Linked DNA regions of Homo sapiens. The protein of the gene in region 1 purifies or fractionates together with the protein of each later gene. This does not show direct contact. Each region holds a gene or a part of one and is shown in the gene's direction. Other genes may lie near its edges. The genes, in order: RUBCN and IQCB1.

The links.
Region 2: the proteins of RUBCN (region 1) and IQCB1 purify together in Homo sapiens (affinity purification with mass spectrometry; one large-scale study listed by BioGRID and IntAct). This does not show direct contact.

Annotation. Positions count from the first base shown.
Region 1 is NC_000003.12:197,726,904-197,730,725, reverse strand, and holds part of RUBCN (run domain Beclin-1-interacting and cysteine-rich domain-containing protein), read left to right. Parts: intron 1-3,822.
Region 2 is NC_000003.12:121,824,925-121,828,746, reverse strand, and holds part of IQCB1 (IQ calmodulin-binding motif-containing protein 1), read left to right. Parts: intron 1-114; coding exon 115-277; intron 278-2,566; coding exon 2,567-2,696; intron 2,697-3,822. UniProt on the Homo sapiens protein: Involved in ciliogenesis. The function in an early step in cilia formation depends on its association with CEP290/NPHP6.

The DNA of each region.
Region 1 (3,822 bases):
CACTGTTTCCTTTCAACCCCCACATCCTCACCACCTGTTTCTTTGTTTGATCATCAATAAATGGTGTGGGCTCCCAGAGCTCCGGGCCTTGGCACAGCATCCACACTCGTGATGGCCCCCTGGTCCCACTTTCTCTCTCAAAAAAAAAAAAAAAAAATCTAGGGTGTACTGTTGCTTCAGAAATGCCCAAATATGGGTGTTCAAATTAAGAATTTGTCTCTGTCTCTGGGCTCTGCTTCCAGATGTGTTGTTTTCATTCTCAGGTAGACTATTCTACAGGTTACCATAGCAACTCCAAGCTTAGCAATACCAGCAACAAGAAAGATGCAGTCCCAGCAGCTCCAGCAAAAGCAAAAATCCCGGGGCTGACTCTTTTTGGACTGACTTGAGTTATGTTTCTGTTCTTGTGGTCGGGGTATGGGCTATTCTGCTTAGTCAGGCCTAAGTTATGTGCCCAACCCTGGATCCTAAGGGAGGGTGAGATCTTGGAACCTCATGGACCAGAGTAAGTAGTAGAGAGGTGGTTCCTCAGTGGAAAATCAGGGTTCTCTTACCAAAATAAAGGGACAAATTCTGGGCAGATATAAAGTTTATTCACTGTAGACCCATATAATCTCTTCTTGGGGATTACCTCAGTAGCTTCTTAACTAATCTTCCAACCTGAATTTAGTCCCAATTCCAGATAGCCTCACCCTGCTACTAGTTTAATTTTTCAGAAACAAAGCTACTATAATATTTTACTCAGGGATGTTCAGTGATTGGCTGGATTTGGTGGCTCATGCCTGTCATCCCAGCTCACCCTGCTACTAGTTTAATTTTTCAGAAACAAAGCTACTATAATATTTTACTCAGGGATGTTCAGTGATTGGCTGGATTTGGTGGCTCATGCCTGTCATCCCAGCACTTTGGGAGGCTGAGGTGGGTGGGTCACCTGAGGTCAGGAGCTCAAGACCAGCCTGGTCAACATGGCAAAATGCTGTCTCTACTAAAAATACAAAAAATTAGCCAGATGTGGTTGTGCACCCCTGTAATCCCAGCTACTCAGGAGGCTAGGCAGGAGAATTGCTTGAACCTGGTAGGCGGAGGTTGCAGTGAGCCCAGGTGATGCCACTGCACTCCACCCTGGGCAACAGATCGAGACTGTCTCAAAAAACAGAACAAAACAAAAGCAGGGGCCGGACGCGGTGGCTCACGCCTGTAATCCCAGCACTTTGGGAGGCCGAGGCAGGCGGATCACAAGGTCAGGAGATCGAGACCATCCTGGCCAACATGGTGAAACCCCGTCTCTACTAAAAATACAAAAAAATTAGCCGGGCGTGGTGGCGGGCGCCTGTAGTCCCAGCTACTTGGGAGGCTGAGGCAGGAGAATGGCGTGAGCCCGGGAGGCAGAACTTGTAGTGAGCCGAGATCGCGCCGCTGCACTCCAGGCTGGGCGACAGAGCGAGACTCCGTCTCAAAAACAACAAACAAAACAAAACAAAAAAAACAAAAGCAATGTTCAGTGGTTTTCCCATTGAAAACAGAATATTTTCCATGTCAAAACTCCTCACCCTGGTATTGAATCTTTTTTTTTTTTTTTTGAGACGGAGTCTCGCTCTGTTGCCCAGGCCAGAAAGCAGTAGCACAATCTCGGCTCACTGCAAGCTCCGCCTCCCGGGTTCACGCCATTCTCCTGACCTCGTGATCCGCCCGCCTCGGCCTCCCAAAGTGCTGGGATTACAGGCGTGAGCCACCGCGCCCGGCCTGAATCTTTCTGTTAGTACTTAATGAAGTTTCCAATTACAAAACCATGGCACACTCACCCACTCTCACATCTTTCTTGCCATTCTCATTCTTGCTTTTCTACACTCACTGCAATACCTCCCTCTTTGCCTGGAGAGCTCTTAGTCGTCCCTTAAATGACGCTCCTTTAGAAGGCACCCCTCTCTGTTAGAGCACATCTGACATCTCCCTTCATAGCATGGTTATGTAAGTGTCCATTTCCCCCATTACGTTCTGAATTCTCTGACAGATGGGACTCTTCCTCTTTAACCGCTATAACGCTTCTTTAAGCACCAGTGCCTAGCCCAGTGCCTGACATATAGTTGGTGTTCAGTGAATATTTGTTTGAGGAATGAAGACATTAACGTTGTGGTCATCCCTCTTACAGATGGGCAGATGCTAGTGGAACTGTTGTCATTGGAAGTGCCACTTTCTTCGCATTTCTCCTATTCATTTTCACTTTTTCACGTTTTTATATTTCCTGTTTTCTTTCTTTCCCGTCCCTGTTTGATTATTCTAGGAGTTAACAGTTTACATAGAGCTAGTAGCAAAGCAGGATGATCACATGATTTTAAAGGAAACTAGCAATTGCTAGTTCGATTTTTAGTACAAAAATTACAGAAACATACCCTTGAAGCTTTTGGGGAAGCTGCTGTTGTCAGAACCCAGGAGGGGACTGCAAGGACTCTAAGCCTGAAGCTTTTCCTCTCCCCACAGCTGTTTTTGTTTTTTGAAGGGTTCTCACATTGTTGCCCAGGCTAGACTTGAACTTTTGAAGTCAGGCAATCCTCCTGCCTCAGCCTCCTGAGGAGCTGGGACTACAGGCATGTGCCACTGTGCCCAGCATAGGTCAGGCAGTCCTCCTGCTTCAGCCTCCTGAGGAGCTGGGACTACAGGCATGTGCCACTGTGCCCAGCATAGGTCAGGCAGTCCTCCTGCTTCAGCCTCCTGAGGAGCTGGGACTACAGGCATGTACCGCTGTGCCCAGCGTGCCTTTTACCTTTAAATCATCTACCTGAAACTGAAAAGACTGAAACACTTTGTCTTTCCTCCCGTGCCATTGCTATTAAAGTGGTGTTGTGTGCCTGCTTTACCTTGTTTGTAAAGCATTCTGCTACCTAGACAGTATAACATGAGCCTGGTGAAGTAATAAGATTGTCTTTCTTATATGTCTCATGAAATCAGCCTTATTGTGCCGCAGTAACACCTTGACAGTTTCTTCCATTCCGTCAAGCAGATTTAAGTCTTTACCATATAAAAGTCATATCCAGTATTTGAGGAAGTCCTTCCTAGCTTTCCTACTTCAGTGAGAGGACCAACAGCATCAACAGGGCCTTGCAATCCATGCTTACCTGCAGACCTGACCTTGGTTTAAACGCAGTGGAGATACTGTTTGGATGTGGAACACTGTAACCAAACTTCATTATGCTGCAGACTGTCCAATCCTTTACAATTTTTGGCAGAATTTTCTTTTTAAGCAGAATGGGTAAGAAGGCTTTATTCTAGGTACCCTTCCTGATTTTGTTGGATTTATTAGATTTATGCAATGGAAGTTCACAGGGGGAAAATGGCAGAGAAAAGAGAATATTATTCTCTGCTCTATGATAATGCTTCCCCTAGATTGTCAGTTACACCCTCCTCTGTGAAGCAATTGTTGTCTCCATTTTACAGTGAGGGAATTGAAGCTTCAAGAGTTTAAATGGCTTGGTCAAGAATGTGGATCTAGGCCAGGTGAGGTGGCTCACGCCTGTAATCCCAGCACTTTGGGAGGCTGAGGCAGGCAGATCACTTGAAGTCAAGAGTTCGAGACCAGCCTGGCCAACATGGTGAAACCCCATTTCTACTAAAAATACAAAAATTAGCTGGGCATGGTGTCAGGCACCTGTAATCTCAGCTACTTGGGAGGCTGAGGCAGGAGAATCATTTGAACCCGGGAGGCGGAGGTTGCAGTGAGCTGAGATCGCACCACTGCCCTCCAGCCTGGGCGACAGAGCAAAACTCAGTCTCAAAAAAAAAAAAAAAAATAGAATGTGCATCTAGTTTGTGAGCAGCTAAGATTCA
Region 2 (3,822 bases), about 76 Mb from region 1:
AACAGTAATTTTTCCTTCTAATATATTTTTAGTGATTATTCAACATATAAAAATACAAATAGCTCCTGGATGTATTAAGCAAAAATAAATATATCTTATTTCCTTTTGCCTTAGAAATAATAAACATCACACCTTTAGGAAGCTCAGAGTTGAAGAAAATCAAACAAGATATATATTGTTATGATCTCATTCAATATTGCCTCTTGGTCCTCAGTCAAGATTATTCTCGAATCCAGGGTGGTTGGACTACAATTTCCCAGCTTACACAGATATTAAGGTAAAATAAAGCAGTAAGTCAGCTGTTCTTGAGGGATGTAGTAGTTGATTCTGATTTTCAACATTTGCTTTTTATTTATCTGCCTAACAAGCATTGGCAACCTCCTGTTGTAGGTTTTGGTTGTACTTTTCCTTCATATTATATGTTATTATTCATAATTTTACTTCAGATTATTTGACTGTCTAAAATTTTCCTCCACAAGCTTAATGAAGATGGTGATCATTTTTTTTCTCACCACTGAATTCCAAGTGCCTAATATACTTTTTATTGATTAAGGAATTTTTAAAGAAGTGAAGAAATTAAGGCACTGGCTCTGTACCTGAGAAACTTAAAATAGAGATTGGGTGACAGTCATGTAAGTATATGATACAAAGCAGAATGAAATCAGTGCTAAAATGAAAGTATGCAAGCAAGTACTATAGGAGAACTGATAAAGAAACATTTTATTTCACTATATCAATGTAGCTATCAACTGTGTATTTCATTAAGCAACCCAAATACTGTCAATAAAATTTAGAAGTAGAATTTACTGATCTACTGCCATGCTAGAAATTAATAGAAGAGAAATAAACATTTTTTAAAGGAGGTAGTAAAATAAACCAGATGTTCTTAGTGCCTAAGCTACTTCCTGATTAATAAGTGAAAGTGTGTATTTACTAACTGGATCCTAGCCTTCTTTTTTTGTTTTTCCTAAATAAGCCATTTGAATTTAATAAGCTATTCCCACTGAAAGGGTTTGTCTTGGATGCTAGATTTCTAAGCTGCTTAATCCTACTGTGTTACTTGGTAAAGGCCAAATTTAAAGCACACAGTTACAAAGAACAGTTGAAAAATATATGTGATATTCTTTTTCATACTTTAATTTTCAAGATTGATTTTCTTAAGTAAATAAAGCCTTATGTTTTTGTTTTGATTCGATATGCTAGTTTATGATGATATTGATTAAGCCAGGCTCTCGGGTGGAATTCAAGACTTAAGAAATTCCCATGTTTCTGAATGCACAAATAAACATAATTTCATTTGTTAATCTTCTCAATCAAAAAAGATACTCTTAAGTAATTAACTTTAGGAACCAAAGAGAAAAGAAAAGCTGATACATGTGAGCATTAGCCCATTAACTTTAGGAACCCAGGTGCAAATAAACAACAACAACAACAAAAAGTGATACATGTAAATATTATCCACTTAGGTTTTTTTTTAACTTTTATTTTAGGTTCAGGGGTACATGTGGAGGTTTGTTTTATAGGTAAATTGCATACTCAATGTTTGTTCTCACTTATAAGTGAGAATATGCAGTGTTTGGCTTTCTGTTCTTGTGTTAGTTCACTTAGGTTAATGGCCTTCAGCTCCATCCATGTTGCTGCAAAGGACATGATCTTGTTCTTTTTTATGGCTGCATAGTATTCCATGGTGTATATGTACCACCCCAAAGAAATATACCATTTTCTTTATCCAGTCTGCCATTGATTACTTAGATTTTTAACATGCTCAATACATAGTTGTTATTGCTTATTAGTGTCCATACATTTTGTTGAAAAGACTCAAACAGCAGTTTTTGTTCATTAGAGTACACACATAGAGACCATTCTTGGGTTTGAGGCTCTTTTGAATGTTAGTTTACAGAAAAACCTTTTATTATTGGGACTTCTGACTTATGTACAGGAAATGACTTTTATGTACAATTTTAAGAGGACCTTTTTCTCTAAGTGACTTTCTCTCCTCTAATGTATATTGTAAAGTGTTCCTACTAGAGTTAGGTTTTGCCGTTTGTCCTTCTGATATAAGGAATATGCAAATGAGTATTTTGCAAAAAGTAGATCTATTGGAAGGTAAAATTGGTATGAAATTAGTGTTTGGTTTCCTTATGTATCCCTTGCAAACAAATCCTACTTGGGCATTTTTCAGCTATTAGGTGTCTAAAATGTATTAGTTAACACAAATGCTTTTCATAAATTAAACTCTCAAGGTATCCTATAGCTTTGAGAATGATTATAGCCAATTCACTGAAAACTTAGCTTCTCTTTATTGTGAGCCAAGTGTCTTTTATTTGCTGAATGAGCTGATATGTAGGTTTTTAGGATACATAAATCCCAGACCTAAGTACAAGCATGGTCCATACCACTGTTTACTTTTCTAGAAAGTTGTTAGACTAATTTTTCAACAAAAATTCTTTATTGTCTTGGTAACAAAAGAAGCATACTAAAAATTCTCAATAAGGCACAGTGTCTCTAGAAGCTTGAGCATTCAACATAAACTTCTAATTAACACGAACTTGTGCTCTTATTTCAGCCATTGCTGTGTGGGCTTGGAGCCAGGAGAAGATGCAGAGGAATTTTACAATGAATTACTTCCATCAGCTGCAGAAAATTTTCTAGTTTTGGGGAGACAATTACAAACATGTTTTATCAATGCAGCTAAGGTATGTGTTTATTTAGTCTTTTGTAGCTAAATCAGTTTAATTCTTAAGAAGCTGTTCTGTTATTTTTTAAATGTGCAATATTTGGCTGAAAGTACAATTAAAGTAGTGAATTTAAACATTTTCAAAGTTACAACCTTCCAAAAATCATCTCTATGTTTGAAAAATTTTTAATGCTGACTGAAGCTTGCCATTTGATTTTTTGAAGGATCTGCCTTGCTACTTTACTTGTTGGGCAGCACCCATAGACAATTATTTCCATAACATCTTTCTAAACATACTTTTTACTTAAATTAACAGTAGAGGAAAGTATGTTCTCTAGGGCTAGGGCTTTTCTAAGTAGCTCCAGTAGTGAAGAATAAAGGTGAACTTCCTATTTGATCTCTCATATCTTCTCCAGTCAAAATATTCAACCCAAACATAGGGGTCTTTTCAAGTATTTCTTGGTTGCATTATGCTAGATGCTATACATGTGCTCTTTTTTTGACCCAGGGATTTAGAAGTGTGTTGCTTAATTTCCAAATATTTGAAGATCTACTAGATACTTTATTGTTATCAATTTCTAATTTAATTATGTTTTGGTCAGATAACATTCTCTATATCATTTCAATCCTTTGGAATTTTTTCAGACTTGTTTTATGGCCCTCCGCATATGTTTTATCTTTGTGAATGTTCATTAAAAGAAACTTTTGTGGGCTGGGCGCAGTGGCTCACACCTGTAATCCCAGCAGTTTGGGAGGCCGAGGCGGGCGGATCACCTGAGGTTGGGAGTTTGAGACCAGCCTGACCAACATGGAGAAACCCTGTCTCTACTAAAAATGCAAAATTAGCCGGGCATGGTGGCACATGCCTATAATCCCAGCTACTTGGGAGGCTGAGGCAGGAGGATCACTTGAACCCAGGAGGCAGAGGTTGCAGTGAGCCAAGATAGTGCCATTGCTCTCCAGCCTGGGCAACAAGAGCAAAACTCCATCTGAAAAAAAAAAAAAAAAGAAAAGAAAAAGAAACCTTTGTTTTGCACAGTTCCATCTTAACTGAAACTCGTGCATGTCAGAACCATGCAAAGGTTTTGATATGCACAGGTTTTATTTAATATGGTGCCATGCAAAAGCTAGGACTACTTGTATAC